Linked DNA regions of Homo sapiens. The protein of the gene in region 1 interacts with the protein of each later gene in a pairwise test. Each region holds a gene or a part of one and is shown in the gene's direction. Other genes may lie near its edges.

Region 1 (3,500 bases):
GAGTTTTATGTTGAAGGCTTCCTATAAAATCTTCTAAACAACTGTTGGTAAATTTCAGCATTACCCACTTGCCTTCATTAAATGGATTTTAATTTCTTTTCTTTAGAAAGGGAGTTCTGGGAATTATGTAACAAGTGTAATTTGATGAGACCAAAGCGTTCCCATCACTGTAGCCGCTGCGGCCACTGTGTGAGGAGAATGGATCATCACTGTCCATGGTAAGAATAATTCACTTCTAGCAAAGAAAAGAGGGGTGGGTAATAAAATGTAAATCTTACAACTTGGCAGCTTTAAACAACAGTTATGTTAAAGTTATATAGTTTTACAATATCTTAATAAGGATATCTTTATTTAGATTATATGGTTCTGTCAACTCCCAAAGTCATTTTTCCACAGAAATCCTATCTTTTCTAACAGGGAGAGATTTGAGCCAAAAAAGTAAGAATTAACTGCAGCCTGATATACAAAAGGATTAAGGTGGTTGTATTAAATGAGGCAATGTATATAAAACATTTACTACAATATCTGACAAGTAGGATGTACTTAAATGGTAGCTATTTCTAATTGTAATAAACCATATGCATCCGAATGTTTATATCCCCTTTTCATTTGTTTAATTAATAACATTTCAGACACCCTGATAACCTCTTCCTTACCCCTTAAAGCTTTTTAAGCATTATGTATTGGATATAGCTACTACCATTATGTACTTGTTGGAAGTATGTGAGTGATAATTAGCTGATTCTGCAGAACTGCTAACAGTTTTGGTCAATAGGGGGCTCTCTTGTAATATTTAAAGAAAATGTTCAGTTGAGAAATATAATCTTCGAAAACAAATGCTGCGTGAATTCTGTATTGTATCTCATTTTAAAGCTGTCACAAAAATCTGTGAACAAGATATTGTATTTAATTCTGTTTTCTTAGCATTGGCTCTCTGTATAAATATTTAAACTGGTATAGTGTAGAATTTGACAAATGTATCTGTATACATATATGTAGTATTTATGTTTGTATACACATACATGCATATATGCAAATTTACATAATGAGCCTCTTAATTTATAATTGCTTTTATTTAAAATTGATGCAAGTGGAGTTTAGCTTTTTCTAATGTTAGTCTATTTAGAGTTTTCTTTATTTTTGATAACTTATTTTGATAGCACAGTTATTCAGCAAACTTCTGGTGGAAATTTGTTTTTTTGCATAGACTGTTTAAAAAGAAGATAATTTCCTGAAATAGGAAAAAGTAAGAGCATTTTCGATAAAAGCATTTTGTTACTACATAAAAATTTTAAAAATTTCTAAATCTGTCAACAAGATAGAGTAGTGTATGACATATAGTTGATATTCAAAACTGTGCCTTGAATTTAAACGTAAATAATTATTTGGGAATTACTTGGGAATAAAGATTAATTCCCAAGTAATTTTCTTAAGCTCAGTGATCTGTTTGCTCTCACAATAGTAATAGATTTTTAGAAAGCTACGTGAAACATGTATTCAGATAATTGCTGATCATACAGAAAAGCTCAGTTTTTAAGCGCTTCTTATTGTAGAGTTTCTTATTCACTAAAATACAAATGTTCATGATGGAAGTGGATATTGATGCTTTTTTTTTCAAACGAATGCAGTAGTAAGAAAGAACTAGGAAAGACTCACTTATTGGTGACCAAATAAGGTGCTATTTAACCTTAATTCTAACGTTGGGGTGATTTCTCTTTCTGGGCCTCTTGCTTCCATAGTTTTAGTCAACTTTTCAGAAGTTGGTAGCAGTGAGGGGGAAGTACAAAGGATTGGAGGATCAGAAAGGAGAGTAGACAAGGGACCTAAAGAGATTCAGGAATTTTTATCATTGAATTTCCTGATAGAGCACTGCTGAAATGTTCAGAGAGCAGGGGAAATGTACAGTGTAAATTGGAAGCAAGGAAAATTTTTGATGTTTTCAGAAATTGCACTACTTAACTGCCTAAGACATTTTTAGGTTTGGAGGTCAATTCTCACGTTGCCTCAAGGTTTTCTGTATTTGTGGCTCTGATCATTCTTTTTTTTTTTTTTTTTTTTTTGAGATGGAGTCTTACTCTGTTGCCCAGGCTGGAGTGCAGTGGCATGATCTCAACCTCTGCCTCACTGCAACCTCTGCCTCCTGGCCTCAAGTGATTCTCCTGCCTCAGCCTCCCGAGTAGCTGGGATTACAAGTGCATGCCACCATGCTTGGCTAATTTTTGTATTTTTAGCAGAGACGGGTTGTCACCATGTTGGCCAGGCTGGTCTCAAACTCCCAACCTCAGGTGATCTGCTCCCCTCGGCCTCCCAAAGTTCTGGGATTACAGGCTTGAGTCACCGCGCCTGGCCTGATCATTCTTTCTAAGTAGTGCAGATGTTACAAAAAGAACTCATATAGATTGAATACCTTAGTGCTTCTTAAAGCTGTTCTGGTTAAGAAGAATGCTGTGATCATAGACATTGTTTCTCAAACTTCCTGGGGACAGGAAAGATGGAACAATGATAAGTCATCTTTCAATCGGCAGCTGTTGAAGAGCACTTTTGAGTGTATATTAATACATAAGCACACTTCTCTTATAATCCTGCTTGCAAATAACAAAGCACAGTAGATTTTCTTGTTTACAAAACATGCACTCTTAAATCTTAAGAAATGCCTCTCTAAGGTTTTTCAGTTCAGGTCTGTATTTGACTTTAAAAAATGGTTTAATGACAAAGTTAAAAAGAGCGATTTAAGTTAGGACCGAAACCTGTTACATCGTTTCTTTTTCAGTGACAGTATAATACTATTTTGAAATGAAAACATTTGTGCAAAGTCATTTGTAGTCTTGAACTAGGGTTTTTTGCTGGAATTTTAGGATACTTTGACAATTTGGATACAATAAATTTGGAACAATAAAATATTCAGCTTAAATTAGCCTTGAAAATTTTTTATTGTAACATTAATCCTCTTTCCTAGTTAGGGTTCACTGTTGTATTGGTGGAAGTATAGCTGTGTGTATTTATAAATAGTTTTGAATACATTTTTATTTTCAGCAACCAGGGGTAGATTTTTAAAATGAAAAGTGAATGCTTAGCAGTTATGTCAGAGTGGTATGTTTCAGCTGGTTTACTTCAGGGCATTCAGATTGCTTTTCACAGCTAGAATGCCCTAAAGGAAGAGCAAAATACAGGGAAGCAGGGTTCTTGCTCTCTTGGCCCCTATGTCTTCTAACTCTACATCCTCTGGCCAGAGGCTTAGCTCCTTTGTTCCCTGTTTCCATATCAGTGACACAGGAGACTACCGTCTGCTCTTCCTGTCTCGCTGAGTTGTTATGAGTTGAAGGGGGATCACATATGTGGACTTCCTTTGTGAAGTGCTTTACAAATATAAGATGGTATATTTATAGTTTTCTCTGTATAGTTTGTTTTTACCTTCAAGTGGCCATAGCATATCTCCATGAAGTTAAGCATATGTGATATTATTTGTTTTTAATTTAGTCTTATTGATCCTGAGGTGAACT
Region 2 (3,500 bases), on another chromosome or scaffold:
CTCAAAAATATAAAATAATAAAATAAAAGATATGTTGGCCAGCTTGGTCTTGAACTTCTGGCCTCAAGCAATCCTCCTACACCTCAGCTTCCCAAAGTGTTAGGATTACAAGCATGAGTCACCGTGCCCAGCCAATATTTTCAAAGTACTCAGAACAGTGCCTAGTACAGAATATACACAATATAGTGTTTATTATTAATATGATTTCTCAAGTGGAAGAAAACAGGTGTCACTCCAAACACTGCGATCGGCTTGGCAAGGTCCTTGGCTCATTCTTTAAACCTTCCTACCCCCTCTCTATTACAGGTTTTTGTACTTTAAAAAATGTTGGGGAGAGGCAGAAGGGGCATCTCACACACACACTGTCTCACACACACTCTCACACACATGTGCATGCATGCTGAGTACAGACAGAAGATGTGTCACGCCGTCCTGTGCATTCAGGACAGTGCCTAACACATCCCGGGTACTTACGGCAATGTTTCACGAAGAAATGAATGTCTAAAAATTTTCCATTGCCTGCAAGTCACGCCCTCATAAATTCTTTTATTTCAGCTTCTTTAGTCTCCCCAAAGGTTAGGAAGAAAAATGCGTGGCTCACAGTGCTTATAGATGGGTGTTTTTATCAAAACAAAAGGAATAAAATTGTCCAGTAACTGGGTGTTCTCTAGAATGTCAGAAGCCAACCGTGGTGCCAGCTAACCCGAGATTGTCCCTGTGTCTGAATGTCTTGGCCCTACCACAGTCTTGCAGTAGATTCTGCTCAGTTCTATAGCTGGAATCCTGGCTGCCTTTTTATTTTTATTTTTTGGCCAAAAGTCCTTTTGCCAAAATAAAGACTATAAAGAAGAGGGCCCTCGCAGAGACAGCTGCAGTCGGTCCAGTGATTGGACAGAATGGGGCCAGGTGTCAAGGGCATGGGTGTTTGGCCCTGCGAGGGGCTGTAGGTGGCCTCCTATCAGTCCCCACCACCTGGCTGCTGTCCCCTCTGCAGCCTCCCTCAGCAGCTGGAGGTGGGTGGGGCTTGTTTATCAGGAAGAACCGATGCCCTCCACAGCCATCCTGGCCGGGGGTGGCAGGACTAGTCAGAAGGCTTCAAGGAAACGGGAGGTCACATGTGCTGGCCAAAGAAAGGGGGGCTGATGACATCTTCCCTCCTCCCCTCCAGAGCCTGGACATTCTGGAAAAGTGTCTTCCTTTAAGAATGGTCATTCTGGCAGGACAGGAAAGGGGAGCCTGCTGAGTACCACAGAGGCTGAGGCCTGGTGGTCACCAGCCCAGTCACCAGTCCATGCTGCCAGTTAGCCGTCCCTCCCTCCTGAGCCTCAGTCATCCATCTGTCAAAACAGGAGCGACAAAGGTTCCTGGGTCATGAGGCAGTGAGGGATTTATGAAATGACGCCTTTGAAGTGGAAGCTCAACTCCTGGCTCAGCAGAAGGGACCTGTCATCGGGACACTGAGGGTTTTCCTCAAATGTTCTAAAAAATCTTATGCCTCTAAAAATAACAGGGTAAAAGTGGGCCAGCTGCAGAGCCCATAACAAGAGCTGACCTCCAGCCAGGTGCGCATCACCTGCCGGGACAAGCCCCAGGACTGTCCTTAGAGAAGTCTTTTGATTAAAGTGCTCTGTTATTGAGAAGTGGTTTTTTTCCCTCCCCTAATGTGGGTGAGGTTGGTATTTTTGTTTCTCCCACACATTCCAGGCTTGGTAGGTGCTCAGTAACTGTTAGCAGATGTCCCATGCAATCCATGATTTCTGTACAAGTCCTGGTAGGGCACTGTGCAAAAATCGCCCCCACTTTGTGTGTTTCAGATGTCAGGTGTAAATCTTGATTCTAGGAGTAAATCTGCCATCGCTTTTGCTGCATTAATTTTGTGCGCACCGTCCTTTTTTGATGGCATATAACATGGTTGTCACATGCTCAGGCTGTGGCCTTGGAGGGCCTGGGTTCTAATCTTGGTGACATCAGGCCAATGACCTCACCTCAGCAAGCCTGTGTTGCTCCTTTGCAAAGTGGGAAAAGCAGTAGTATCTACCTCTGAAGGTTGGCATGAGGATGGAAGGAGAAAGGGTTGGAGGACCACCTGGCTCAGAGAAAATGCTTGATAAAGGATCATTGTCCCCAAGCTTGTGAGCCCTGGTGTTTTAGTTACTATTGCTGCTGTAACAGATGAGCACATAACCTGGTGGTTTAAAACAATCCACATTTATTATCTTACACTTCTAGAGGTCAGAAGTCCAAAATGGGTCTTAATGCACTAAAGTCAAGGTCTCAGCAGAGATGGGTCCTTCTAGGGGCTCGAATCCATGTCCTGCCTTTTCCAGCTTAAAGCCGCTTGCATTCCTTGGCTCATGGCCCTTGCCTCCATAAGCCAGTAGCACCGCATCTTCAGCTCTCTCACTCTGCTTCTGTCCTCACAACCCCCTCCCCGACACTGAGTTTCCTGCCTCCCTCTCTTCACTTATAAGGACCCTTGTGATGACGTTGGTAATAATGTAGCCCAGGTAATCCGGGATCATCTCCCTATCTCAAGACCCTTAATCACATCTGCAAAGTTCTTCTGCCATGTAAGGTGACATATTCACAGATCCTGGGATTGGGACATCTTTGGAGTCATCATTCTGCCAGCCATACCTAGTTCCAGGCTTGCATTGCACTTAGTGACTAAGTTGGCTCAAACTCGGCTCACTGAGTAGGAAAGGGGTAACTGATCCACGCCTGTAATCCTAGCACTTTGGGAGGCCAAGGCGGGTGGATCACCAGGTCAGGAGATCAAGACCAACCTGGCTAACACAGTGAAACCCCATCTCTACTAAAAATACAAAAAATTAGCTGGGTGTGGTGGCACACACCTGTAATCCCAGCTACTTGAGAGGCTGAGGCAAAAGAATCCTTTGAACCAGGGAGGTGGAGGTTGCAATGAGCCACAATCATGCCACTGCACTCCAGCCTGGATGACAGAGTGAGACTCTGTCTCAAAAGAAAAAGGAAAGGGGTAACTGATCTCTCATCCAGCAGGAAAGAGTATAACATTGCATGCGTGTATAAAAGCCGGTAATGACTGCCCGTGCCTGCCCTAAAGCACCTCCTCTTCTCTGATTTGTACACAGGACCCCAGCCAGGCCACGGGGACAACAGGCAGCAGCGTCAGCTGCACAGAGGAGAAAAAGCAAAGCAAGTCACAGCAACTGAAAAAGATTTTTCAAGAGTATGGCACTGTTGGCGTGTCATTGCACATTGGAATCTCATTAATTTCCTTGGGCATATTTTACATGGTTGTGTCAAGGTAAGATTTTTGACAGTAATTAATATTTGTTTTTTACTGTCATGTAAGATTCTATGTGAATAAGAACGTGTTTGCTAAGACTTTTTTTTTAAGACAGGGTCTCACTCCACTGCCCAGGCTGGAGTGCAGTGGCATGATCACAGCTCACTGCAGTCTCGACCTCCCTGGGCTCAAGTGATCCTCCCACCTCAGCCTCCCAAGTAGCTGACAC
Region 3 (2,296 bases), on another chromosome or scaffold:
GCCTCCTCTGGGAGACTGCCCTGACCACTGCTTTTCCTTTTAGTGAGTGATGTGCCATTTCCTTTCTCTGCCCAGTCTGGGGCTGGGGTGCCAGGCTGGGGCATCGCGCTGCTGGTGCTGGTCTGTGTTCTGGTTGCGCTGGCCATTGTCTATCTCATTGCCTTGGTGAGTGCAGTCCCTGGCCCTGATCAGAGCCCCCCGGTAGAAGGCACTCCATGGCCTGCCATAACCTCCTATCTCCCCAGGCTGTCTGTCAGTGCCGCCGAAAGAACTACGGGCAGCTGGACATCTTTCCAGCCCGGGATACCTACCATCCTATGAGCGAGTACCCCACCTACCACACCCATGGGCGCTATGTGCCCCCTAGCAGTACCGATCGTAGCCCCTATGAGAAGGTGAGATTGGGCCCCACAGGCCAGGGGAAGCAGAGGGTTTGGCTGGGCAAGGATTCTGAAGGGGGTACTTGGAAAACCCAAAGAGCTTGGAAGAGGTGAGAAGTGGCGTGAAGTGAGCAGGGGAGGGCCTGGCAAGGATGAGGGGCAGAGGTCAGAGGAGTTTTGGGGGACAGGCCTGGGAGGAGACTATGGAAGAAAGGGGCCCTCAAGAGGGAGTGGCCCCACTGCCAGAATTCCTAAAAGATCATTGGCCGTCCACATTCATGCTGGCTGGCGCTGGCTGAACTGGTGCCACCGTGGCAGTTTTGTTTTGTTTTGCTTTTTTGCACCCAGAGGCAAAATGGGTGGAGCACTATGCCCAGGGGAGCCCTTCCCGAGGAGTCCCAGGGGTGAGCCTCTGTGCCCCTAATCATCTCCTAGGAATGGAGGGTAGACCGAGAAAGGCTGGCATAGGGGGAGGTTTCCCAGGTAGAAGAAGAAGTGTCAGCAGACCAGGTGAGCGTGGGTGCCAGTGGGGTTCTTGGGAGCTTCAAGGAAGCAAGGAACGCTCCCTCCTTCCTCTCCTGGTCTTTCTCTATGGGACCTAGTAAATAATTACTGCAGCCACCTGAGGCTGGAAAACCACTCCAGGTGGGGGAGGAGAGAGTTTAGTTTTCTTGCTCCTATTTTCCTCCTCCTGGAGACCTCCCTCTCTCGGCTTTACAAAGACACAGATACACCCCGCCCCCCAAAACACACACACACACACACACACACCTCCTTAGGCTGGAACAGCAGAGAATGGAGGGACAAGGGGGCTGATTAGAGCCAAGAAGAGGGAGTGAAGGAGAGCAGAGGGAGGAGGGCAGCCCTGTTTACAGTCACCTGGCTGGTGGGGTGGCAGGTGCTCTCTCTGAATTAACCCTTTGAGAGCTGGCCAGGACTCTGGACTGATTACCCCAGCCTGGGGTGGCATCCAGGGGCTCTAGGAGGTACCTTTTGCTCCTCACCCTGGATCTCTTTTCCTTCCACCCAGGTTTCTGCAGGTAATGGTGGCAGCAGCCTCTCTTACACAAACCCAGCAGTGGCAGCCACTTCTGCCAACTTGTAGGGGCACGTCGCCCGCTGAGCTGAGTGGCCAGCCAGTGCCATTCCACTCCACTCAGGTTCTTCAGGGCCAGAGCCCCTGCACCCTGTTTGGGCTGGTGAGCTGGGAGTTCAGGTGGGCTGCTCACAGCCTCCTTCAGAGGCCCCACCAATTTCTCGGACACTTCTCAGTGTGTGGAAGCTCATGTGGGCCCCTGAGGGCTCATGCCTGGGAAGTGTTGTGGTGGGGGCTCCCAGGAGGACTGGCCCAGAGAGCCCTGAGATAGCGGGGATCCTGAACTGGACTGAATAAAACGTGGTCTCCCACTGCGCCAACTTCTGATCTTTCATCTGTGACCCGTGGGCAGCAGGGCGGTCAGAATGTGTGTGAGGGGGCTGGGGGAGGAGACAGGGAGGCCAGGAGGCAGTAAGGAGCGAGTTTGTTTGAGAAGCAGGAGATGTGAGGAGGAGGTGACATTGGGGAGTAGGGGTGGCCTGAGGAGCCACCTCTGGCTAACCCTGGCAGCACAAGAGGAAGGAGGAAACGAAACCCAGGCGGGCTTTGGAGGGCTAGCGTGACTGGGCTCCGTGACTGAGCTCTGTGTGCCAGTGGCTCTCCCCTCTCCTCGCCTGGCCCACGCCCTCCTTGCCCCCTGGCATGGTGCCCCCCAGGTGGCTCTATTCTTAGCTGTCCGGGTGTGAAGTAAATCCTTGGGCAGTGATAACAGCCCAGAGTCAACAGGGTTGAGATAAGCAGAGGCTGGGTCAGATCCGGGCGCTGGCACCAGGCCCAGCCCCCTCCCTGACCCCGGCTGCCCCACCAGCCTGCTGCCCCT
Region 4 (3,500 bases), on another chromosome or scaffold:
TAAAACAGATACAAGTTCAGTTTTGCTTTTAATTTTTATTTTCATCCTCATAAATTAAGCAGTTTTGTAGCAGAATAATTCAGAAGCAGTAATTGTTAGTTTCTATGCCTAGCCAATATCTACCCTAATTTCACAATAATGGTTTTAGGATTAAATTTTGTGAGATTTTTCCATAATGCTAAACATGTGTTTATTTTTAGTCATACATTTTTAAAGTTCAGGCTCTTAATTAAATATTGACAGTGTAATTTGGTGGAGTATACACATTTTGGCAAACAGTTGGCATTAACTGTATTTGCCAATATTAAATTTAGTAACAGATCAGGCACTTGGCCAGCAGGTGAGGAAAGTTTGGTCATGTAAAAAACTGAATACAGGAGGAGAAAGAAAACCAGATTCGTTAAGCACCCACAATATCAGATCCATTAATTTTTTTATCTCCATAATTCCTCAGTGAAGTTGGTAAGTATTCCTGCTCTACAGGTGGGGAGTCTGAGGTCTAGGTATTTTAGGTAAATTGGCTTGGATTACATGTATGTCTAATAAATCCAGATGGATATTACCACACAGCTTATCTATACTATTTCTAGTAAACTGCATCCTGTGATAAACTTGTAGAGAATCTTACTGTTGTTTTTCTTTATACTCTTCCCTGGTTCCCATAAATCCAAGGATTTAAAGCCTCAAAAAAAACATGCCTTTCGGCCAGGCACGGTGGCTCACGCGTGTAATCCCAGCACTTTGGGAGGCTGAGGCAAGCGGATCACTTGAGGTCAGGAGTTTGAGACCAGACTGTCCAACATGGTGAAACCCCATCTCTACTAAAAAAAAAAAAATAAAAATAAAAAAATAAAGGCCAGGCACGGTGGCTCATGCCTTAATCCCAGCACTTTGAGAGACCAAGGCGGGCAGATCACCTGAGGTCAGGAGTTCGGGACCAGCCTGGCCAACATGGCCAAACCCTGTTTCTACAAAAATACAAAAAAAAATTAGCTGAGCTTGATGGTGGGTGCCTGTAATCCCAGCTACTGGGGAGGCTGAGGCAAGAGAATCACTTGAACCTAGGAGGTGGAGGTTGCAGTGAGCTGAGATCTCGCCATTGCACTCCAGCCTGGATGACAGAACGAGACTCTGTCTCAAAAAAAAAAAAAAAATGCTTTTATGGCTTTATGTTATACTGCCCAAAATGGTGGCCCCAGGTGGCTAATTAAAAGTAAATTAATTAAAATTAGATATAATTAAAAATTGAGTTCCTTAGTAACACTAGCCACATATAAAGTGCTGAGCCCACCATGGCTACCATTTTGGACAGTGCACTTTGTATATTTTCATATTGTGAGACTGGCGTGCCACCTACTGCACTAACAAGGCACCTCTTAGAGTATTTCTGTCTTCCCAGAGAGTTGTTGAAAACAACACTGATTCTAAAGGTCAGAGGAGGAGAAGGAGGAAACTCCATTTATTGAGCTTAGTATCGCTAATTTTCAAACAGCCCTATGAGATTGCCCAAAGCCACATATCTAGTAGGTGGCAACACTAAAAATTAAATCCAGATTTTCATAGCTTCAATCCTTCCCATTGTATTACAACATAGTCTATTCAGTTTCACATGTTTACAGAATCATAAGTTTTGAAGACTCAAACAGCTAGTATAATTTTTAACAATTTTATTTAATATTACTGCAATGGAACTTTACCAAAACAGTGCTTTTATTTTTTTGGAATGGCAAAAAATTATACACTTGACTTTTTGATAGTTTATTTTGCGTTGTTGAACCTTGCAATACTGCTGCTCCCTTATTCCAGGTGGAGTATTCTTTGACATATACCAAAGCTATATTTTTTCCAACTTACCTTTTAAATTCCACTGAAAGAAAAAAGTCACGTAAGAAGAACCCCATGAGATGCCTAATATTTAGGAGGTTGGGGAAAAGAACACATGTACCTTGAAGTGTTTTTCCTCCATTTTAAACTTTATCTTCAATTTGTTCACTTTTATTTAACACTTTAGTTTGCAGAATTGGAAACTCTGTGTTTGCAGAGTTGCATCATAAAAACTGGACCCAATCTTACCTATTTCTTCATGGATGTCCTAAAGTTGCCACTGCCCACCTCTCATCCCAGCTTCTTGCTTTGAAGCCAACTGGCTTTGTTGTTTGGGCTAATGCCCATATGCATCTATTACCTACCAGTAAGATAAAAGGATTAGCTAGGTTTTCTGATGATTTTTTATATTCTGCTCAAATTTCTACTAGTTATTTCTATTATAACTACTTAGTTGGCTCTGAATTCAACATCATCCCGTTGTTTTTAATCTTTGAGGGAATCGTATTTGTGTTAAATCCTAAAGCATATTATAAAAGGATAGCTTGAAACCAGAAGCTGTTATTCAGGGTGGAAGAAAGGAGTAGATTTAATAACATCTGGAATTAGCCATTCAAGTTCTTTTAATTGTTTTTTCAACACTCTGACATAGACCACTCCTTTCCCTGTGCACCCAAGACAGACATGACTGTATAACTCCTGTATTCTTTTGGAGCCTATATCCAGTCTCAGGATCTTTAATAATAGGATTTCAGCTCCATTTTTAAATACTGAGGAAGACTTCCCTGGATTTCATTACAGTAAAAGCTTAAGAGATGAGAAATGGAGTTAACTGAGTCTTCAAAACAGATGTGTTCCTATCCTCATGGAGTTAATAGTCTATTAAGGAAGAGAGGCAGTAAACAAGGATTTCAGTATGTAATTATAATCTGTAATATGCTATAAAAGAAATTAATAGAATGGGAATAGAGGGTAACAAAGGACTTTATTTAGATTAAGTGGCTAAGCAAGGTTACCTTTTTTATGTTAGATTCTCGAGAAAAAGGGCTCGACATTTAAGCAAAAACCTAACAGAGCCAGCCATACAAAGATTGGGTATGAGAATGTTCTGAAGTGAGATTGTTACTATGCTTTCTATACCGAGCAAAGCCATCTAGCAGTAGATCTAGAACTGATCATACTAGAAACCTCTTTAACACTGTTGATTTTCAGATTTTACTTCAGCCTTTATCTGATTAGTATTAACACAATATTTCATTTTCCATCCCTTTTAGTCAATCTGTGTTGTTTTATTTTTCTCACATTAATGACATATAGCTGGATTTTTTCATTTAATATTAGCACTATGTCCTTTAATAGCTTAATTAGTGTATATGTTTTGTGATTACGGGTATATTTAGGTTTATTTCTATCATCTTATTTTGTGATTTCTCTTCACCTTACTTTTCTTTGCCTCTTTTCCCACTATTTTTCCTTCTCTGATTGATTTTTTTATTTCTTCCATTTTCTCTCCTCTACTGATTTGGATGTATTCTATTTCTATCCTTTTAGTGATTTCCTTAAGTTTTTGCTATAGATGACTATCCTATGCTTCTGAACAATATAAGAATTTTAGCCAAACATCATTTTAGTGTCAATTTGAAAAAGCTGCCTCTTTAAGATACTTTACTGACATT
Region 5 (3,500 bases), on another chromosome or scaffold:
TACTATTGAGCAGTGCCGGCGAGAGGGCTTCAGCCAGAAGATGCAGGAGCAGAAGAATGAAGGCTGCCAGGTGTATGGCTTCTTGGAAGTCAATAAGGTATCAGGAGGGATCAAGACAAGATAGGGCCAGCTGGGCTGGGCAAGCTCCACTGGGAACCGAGGGCCCAGTCAGGCCCTGAGTAGGCAAAAGGAGGACACAGCCAGTGAATGAGAGAGAATGTTCCTTACAGGTGGCCGGAAACTTCCACTTTGCCCCTGGGAAGAGCTTCCAGCAGTCCCATGTGCACGGTGAGTGATCTGCACTAGCTGGGGAGATTTAGATGCTGGCCACCTTCTTGGTGAGCTTGAGTGGTCCTCTTCTGCCTGCTGCTCATTTGTCTTGGGCAACCATTTGGCCAGAGCAGGCCTTCATCTCAGGGCAGCAGTTTGGCACAGTGGCTAAGAGCACAGGCCGAGGAGCCAGACTGCCTGCATTCAGATACCAGTTTCAGACCTTACTGGCTGTGTGACTTTGAGAAGGTTTCTTAATCTTTTTGACTCCTGTTTTCTACTTTATAAAATGTTGTGAGGGCACTTATCTCACAGGGTGTGTGTGCAGGTTAAAGATGATAGCACGGAGCCTGGCTTGTGGTAGGTACTTGTTGAAATGGTAGCCCCCCGTGTCCGATGATGACCTGTGCATGAGGCTTTGGGAGAAGCAGAGCTAGGTTGGAGCACAGGTTCTGCCACACCTGGGCTATGTCATATTTGGGCCCTATTTAGTTGCTTCTTCTGTAAAATGGGGATGATGATAATAGTACCCACTCACAGGGCTGTTGGGGTGAACAAATGAGATTTATTCTCATTCATTTGTTCATTCATGCATTCACAAAATATTTAGTAATCACCTACTAGTCTAGTTGCTAAGGGTACAGTAGTGAACAATCTGTGCCCTCAGAACATTCTAGTAAAGAAATAGACAATAAGTATATAAAATATAAATAGTCCCCAATTAACAATGGTTCAGCTTGCAATTTTTAACTTCATGATGGGTATTACATGCATTTTTCACTTAACGATATTTTCTTTTTCTTTTTTGAGACAGAGTCTCACTCTGTCGCCCAGGCTGGAGTGCAGTGGCATGATCTTGACTCACTGCAACCTCCACCTCCTGGATTCAAGTGATTCTCCTACCTCAGCCTCTTGAGTAGCTGGGTGTACAGGTGCGTGCCACCACGCCCAGCTAAGTTTTGTATTTTTAGTAGAGATGGGGTTTCATTATGTTGGCCAGGCTGGTCTTGAACTCCTGACCTCAAGTGATCTGCCCGCCTCGGCCTCCCAAAGTGCTAGGATTACAGGCATGAGCCACCGCACCTGGCCGACTTACAATATTTTCAACTTGCAATGGGTTTATTGGGACGTAACCCCAGTGTAGGTCAGGGAGCATCTGTATATGGTATATCAGATGCTGTTAAGTCATATGGACCAAAACAAGGCAGGATAAAGATGGTAATGGGGAGGGGCTAGGGTAGGGCAGTGAGGGTCCTATTTTAAATATGGAGGTCAGGGAAAAACTCTTTGATGAGGTAATATTTTAGCAAAGACCTGAAGACAGTGAGGGAGCCAGCCATGTGGATGTCTGGGGAGGAAGTGTTACAAGCAGAGAGAACAGCAAATGCAAATTCCTAAGGCTAGAATGTGCTTGGCAAGTTCAAGATACAGTAAGAAGGTTAGGGTGGCTGGAGCAGAGGAGCATGCTTAGAAATGAAGTGAGAGAGGCCGGGTGCAGTAGCTCATACCTGTAATCCCAGCACTTTGGGAGGCCGAGGCGGGTGGATCACCTGAGGTCAGGAGTTCAAGACCAGCCTGGCCAACATGGTGAAACCCTGTCTCTACCAAAAATACAAAAATTAGCTGGGTGTGGTGGCACACGCCTGTAATCCCAGCTACTCGGGAGGCTGAGGCACGAGAATCTCTTGAACCTGGGAGGTGGAGGTTGCAGTGAGCTGAAATTGCGCCATTGTACTCCAGCCTGGGTAACAGAGTGAGACTCCATTTCAAAAAATAATAATAAATAAAGAGAGGTCACAGGGCCATATCATGCAGGGCTTGCAGGGGCATTGTAGGGACTCGGGCCGTTACTCTGCATGAGATGAGAAGCCATTGTAGGGCCCTGAAGAAGGTGAGGCATGATCTGACTTAAAAGCTCTCCAGCTGCTCTGTGGACAAGACTGGGCAGGGGAAAGGACAGAATCAGAGAGGCCCATTAGGAGGCAGTTGCAGTGATCAATCCAGGCAAAAGATGGTGGGGCACGGCCCAGAGTGGCAGTGGAAGTGGTGGGAAGTGACTGGCTTCTGGATGTATTTTGAAGGTAGAGCTGAGAAGAGTTCCTGATGGGCATGAGGGATAAAGGAAAAAGGAGTCAAGGATGCCTCCAAAGTTTTGTACCTGAGTAGTAAGAAGGATGGAGTTGCCTGTAATCCTAGCACTTTGGGAGGCCAAGGCAGGTGGATTGCCTGAGCTGAGGAGTTTGAGACCAGCCTGGGCAACATGATGAAACCTTGTCTCTACTAAAAAATGCAAAAAATCAGCCGGGCGTAGCGGCGTGCGCCTGTAGTCCCAGCTACTCGGGAGGCTGAGGTAGGAGAATTGCTTGAACCCAGGAGGCGGAGGTTGCAGGGAGCCGAGATTGTGCCATTTCACTCCAGCCTGAGCGACAGAGTGAGATTCCATCTCCATTAAAAAAAAAAAAAAGGATAGAGTTGCCATTTAGCAAGATGAGGGAGACTCAGGGCAGGTTTAGATGTTCGGAAATGGGATCGTACAGCTGGTATTCGGCTTTTGACGTGTTCAGACCAATAGCATCTGGGTGTCCTTCTAGACACCCAAGGTGTCAAGTAAGTTTTCCATTCAAGCCTGGAGTTCAGGGAGAGGACTTGCCTGGAGATGCAGATGTTGGCATCATCAGCATGTGTATAGAGCTGTGGGACTGGATGAAATCACCCTGGAGGTGAGGGCAGATGGAGAAGAAGGGAAGCTCAAAGGGCTGGGTGCCAGGCCTCCCACATTAGAGGCCAAGGGTGTCAGGGGGAATTGGTAGGGGAGACTGGAGGAGGAGTGTAAGCTGGGAATGTGGCATCCTGCCAGCCACGGACGGGTGTTTCAAATACCACATCAGATGCTTCTGGATGTCAAGCGGGAATTGACCATGGCATGTACATGCAACAGTCACTTATAGCCTTGACTGAGTCATTTAAGGGTGTGACAGGACCACCCTAGAGTGGGTTCGGGAGGGAATGGGGGAGGAGTTGGAGCCAGTATTGACAGCTCTATAGTGGAAATTGCCTAGGGGAGGAGAGAGCATGAGCTGAAGCTAGAGGGAAATGTGGAGTCGAGGGAGGCTTTTCTAAGGAGGGTGATGTAGCAGAATGTTAATATGCTGTTGGAAATTATCGACTAAAGAGCATAAGTGATGCTCCAGAGACGAGACAGTGACCGGAGTGAAGTCCTGGAGAAGGAG
Region 6 (3,500 bases), on another chromosome or scaffold:
TATAGAATATTTGCATCTCATCAGAAGCACTAAAGGAAATATTAATGCAAATACATGCAGAAAAACAAACATAACTAGTATAGTATTATAACATGTAAAGACATGGAGGAATTTCATCCAAATATTATTAAAAGGTTGGGAATTGTTATGCTGTGGATTAGGGGTTGACAGTTACTGTAGCTTCCATGATAATCCTGGGAGGCTGAATTTTTGAAAGCTCTCTGACCCTGCTGAACTAGAAGGGCTAATTTGAGAAGGGTATGGTGTAAAATGTGGCCTTTTATAGGCTGAAAACAGGGATTTGTTAAGTGGTTGTTGAATGAATGCATGCCTTGCATTGTTGGGCAAAGAAGTGAGGGCATTGCTTTTTTCCCCTGGAGTAAGGAATGAAGTAAAAGGTCATTGAGCTTTGTAGAGCACATATATTCACTAAATACTAGGTTGATGAGTTGTTGACTTGAGGATAAAGTTATTATGCCAGCATAGAGGAGGATCTGGGAAAAGCTCTAGGAAGGGTTCTTGGACACTGAGGAAACCTTGAATATCAACAAATGTGCTTTTGGATTTGGCAGAAAGGATAGAGAATAGAGGAATAGTGTGAAAAAATTATCTACTCTTTATTTATTCATCAAATATATTTTTAGGTACTTTGATAGGCCTTGCAATACAAGAATGAAACACCCAGCCCCTCTTTTCAGGGAGAAAACAGTTTAAAAGAAGGTCACTGGACAGTGTAATGAGTGCTGTAATGGAATAGTAACATGTGCAGGTGCTCTGGTCATGCAAAATGCGTCCCCTGACCAGTTAAAATTTTCTTGATCCAGTTTTCCTCACCATTAGTCTATTCTTCCTCCTAATAATTATTTTTAAAAGTAACAATTTTCAGAAGTTAAAATAAACCTAAATGATCATGTAGTTTGTTACTGCTCAAAAGGGGATGGTCCATGGAATAATGGCATAGCATCAGTTAGAGCTTCCTGGAAAATGTGGTCTTCTTAGAAATGGGCTGCATGGGCTGGGCATGGTGGCTCACGCCTGTAATCCTAACACTTTGGGAGGCCAAGGTGGATGGATTGCTTGAGTTTAGGAGTTTGAGACCAGCCTAGGCAGCATGACAAAATCCTGTCTCTACAAAAAATACAAAAAGTAATAGGGTGTGTTGGCGTGTGCCTGTAGGACCAGCTACTTGGGAGTCTGAGGTGGGAGGATGGCTTGAGCTCAGGAGGCTGAGCCTGCAGTGGACGGAGATCGTGCTACTTTACTCCAGCCTAGGTGACACAACGAGACTCTGTCTCAAAAAAGAAAAAAGAAAAGAAAAGAAATGGGCTGCATATCTGACCCACTGTCTCAAAATCTGCATTTTTACCATGCCCACCCGCCCCCCTCCCCAACCTGGTGATTCGTTTTCTCATTGAAACTGGAGAAGCACTAATCTGGTTCACCTACTTCCCATCCAGTTTTACAGATGGAGGAAATGAAGATAGATTGTGCTCCTAAGGTCCTATGCACAGTAGCAGAGCCAGTGTTAGAACTCAGCCAGTCAGCTGGTCATGGTGGCTTCTTACTAGTGCCTCTTTCCTTCTCTCTTTTGGAAATTCTCTGTTGAATGAGAGAACAACAGTGCACCACACTATATATAAAAAAGAATGAACATTTTTATTTACTTATAATTTGTGGCATCAGCAACTCAGGAGGCTGAGGCAGGTGGATCACTTGAGCCCTGGAGGTGGAGGCTGCAGTGAGCCATGTGTGCACCACTGCCCTCTAGTCTGGACAATAGAATGAGACTCCATTTCTTAAAAAAAAAAAAAAAAAAAAAAAAAAAACCCAGTCACCAGTCTACTTACTGGTAGGGTCTTGTGTGCTTTCTCTGATGCCTCTGTTATTTCCTGTTTCTCTTTACTTTTTTACTCTTCTATTGGCCTCTATTAGTGTTTCATATTGTAAGATCTTCAGCTTCTCACTAGTGTCTCTTTCCCTCTCTCCTGTGGTAGTCCTCTCTTTAAATTTCTCTGTTGAATGAAAACGATACAGCATACCACACTGTACATCAAAAAGAATGAGCACTTTTACTTACTCTTAATTTCTGGCAGAGGTTTGGACCTATTTCTTTAATTTTTTTTTTCTACCCGCTACTCAGAACTTTCTTTGAAGTCAGTAGGAATTCTGTGTGTGGTAAGGGTGAGAGATAATCTATGATGTTAGGAATTAAAATCTCCTCACAGATACATTTATCTTCCTTTCTTTGTTACATGGAGTATGGCATTAATCAGAGTACTTTTGCTCTTTGTATAAGTCTCATGGGAAAAACAGCGCCTGCCTTAAAGTTGGTGGAAAAGAACAGGATACCACAGCAACTCCTTCTCTGTGACCTAGAACAGAGAGTTTGTCTAAATGTTTCTTCTCTAATATAGGGGGTTTGTCTAAATCTTTTTTTTTCTATAATATAGAAAAAGAAATACCTAAGTAGATGCACACCTCATGTTTTATAGGGGGCCTTTAGCATAGAAAGATATGGTCATAGAATGATAATGAACATAAAATGATAAAATGCCATTAAGAAAAGTGAACAGTCACTGATAAGACCTTCGTGGCACAACGCCTTTTTAACAAAAGTCAGCCGTGCTATCTTTTAAGTCATTTCCTCCTTGTGAGAAGTTTACCATCTCTCCTGTGGTTCAAATATATTGGTTTATTTTTAACTCTGAAATGTGTTTGATTTGAGTGATATAGCCATAATCTCTATGAATAGTAGACCTCCTTTTAAAACTATGAAATAAAATCAGTTTTTCTGTTTTCCTGGTTCCCATATGTGTTTTTCTTTCAAGTCATTATCACCTTTTTTTCCCATATCTCGAGTCATCAAGCAATAGCTCACCTTCTTAACAACTCTGATTTCATTAAAACCATAGTTGTGTCATTTCCTGACTTTGCAAATTGTTTGATTAAATATTGTGTTTCGTATCTTGTATCTTACTGTCTATTGACAGTATATAGACACAGATTAATTTTTTAAGTAAGGTATTTTAATACCTAGTTCACTAATCCAGAAGCATTTTGCATATACAGGCTTTAGTAAAAATGACAGTTTAAATAGGGAGTTATTATGATCAACAATTAAGTTAAATTCATTTAGGTTGGTTCTAAGAAGTTGAATTTTCTTTTACTACTTTAAAAATACATTATTTCTTCAAAATACGACATAAAATGTTTTGCATTGCCAAGAATAAACTAGAAATTAGATTTGCAACCTTCAACTGTTGTTTAGCTTTTAGAAATATAAAAATTAATATTAATATATTTTTATAATGTGTTAAAAGATGAATTTTTGTTAATCCCATCCATATTTCATTATCATGCTTGTTTCAGAAATGTTTTACTTGTGGCAACATTCCATTATAAAATTGATTTATGGTTGTGTATTTGAATATGCTGGACAATCAATTCATTTTAAGTAAAATAATGTGTTGCATTTTATATATATAGTTACACATATGTAA

What was found.
Region 2: the proteins of ZDHHC21 (region 1) and FAM210B interact in binary tests that used the Homo sapiens proteins (3 or more experiments, as listed by UniProt).
Region 3: the proteins of ZDHHC21 (region 1) and MUC1 interact in binary tests that used the Homo sapiens proteins (3 or more experiments, as listed by UniProt).
Region 4: the proteins of ZDHHC21 (region 1) and PGRMC2 interact in binary tests that used the Homo sapiens proteins (3 or more experiments, as listed by UniProt).
Region 5: the proteins of ZDHHC21 (region 1) and ERGIC3 interact in binary tests that used the Homo sapiens proteins (3 or more experiments, as listed by UniProt).
Region 6: the proteins of ZDHHC21 (region 1) and ELOVL4 interact in binary tests that used the Homo sapiens proteins (3 or more experiments, as listed by UniProt).

Annotation. Positions count from the first base shown.
Region 1 is NC_000009.12:14,658,933-14,662,432, reverse strand, and holds part of ZDHHC21 (palmitoyltransferase ZDHHC21), read left to right. Parts: intron 1-106; coding exon 107-218; intron 219-3,500. UniProt on the Homo sapiens protein: Palmitoyltransferase that catalyzes the addition of palmitate onto various protein substrates. Palmitoylates sex steroid hormone receptors, including ESR1, PGR and AR, thereby regulating their targeting to the plasma membrane.
Region 2 is NC_000020.11:56,361,974-56,365,473, forward strand, and holds part of FAM210B (protein FAM210B, mitochondrial), read left to right. Parts: intron 1-3,113; coding exon 3,114-3,289; intron 3,290-3,500. UniProt on the Homo sapiens protein: Plays a role in erythroid differentiation. Involved in cell proliferation and tumor cell growth suppression. Involved in the metabolic reprogramming of cancer cells in a PDK4-dependent manner.
Region 3 is NC_000001.11:155,185,324-155,187,619, reverse strand, and holds the end of MUC1 (mucin-1 isoform 10 precursor), read left to right. Parts: intron 1-43; coding exon 44-165; intron 166-245; coding exon 246-395; intron 396-1,410; coding exon 1,411-1,485; 3' UTR 1,486-1,796; downstream 1,797-2,296. UniProt on the Homo sapiens protein: The alpha subunit has cell adhesive properties. Can act both as an adhesion and an anti-adhesion protein. May provide a protective layer on epithelial cells against bacterial and enzyme attack.
Region 4 is NC_000004.12:128,281,314-128,284,813, reverse strand, and holds part of PGRMC2 (membrane-associated progesterone receptor component 2), read left to right. Parts: intron 1-3,500. UniProt on the Homo sapiens protein: Required for the maintenance of uterine histoarchitecture and normal female reproductive lifespan. May serve as a universal non-classical progesterone receptor in the uterus.
Region 5 is NC_000020.11:35,548,578-35,552,077, forward strand, and holds part of ERGIC3 (endoplasmic reticulum-Golgi intermediate compartment protein 3), read left to right. Parts: coding exon 1-97; intron 98-230; coding exon 231-288; intron 289-3,500. UniProt on the Homo sapiens protein: Possible role in transport between endoplasmic reticulum and Golgi. Positively regulates trafficking of the secretory proteins SERPINA1/alpha1-antitrypsin and HP/haptoglobin.
Region 6 is NC_000006.12:79,927,054-79,930,553, reverse strand, and holds part of ELOVL4 (very long chain fatty acid elongase 4), read left to right. Parts: intron 1-3,500. UniProt on the Homo sapiens protein: Catalyzes the first and rate-limiting reaction of the four reactions that constitute the long-chain fatty acids elongation cycle.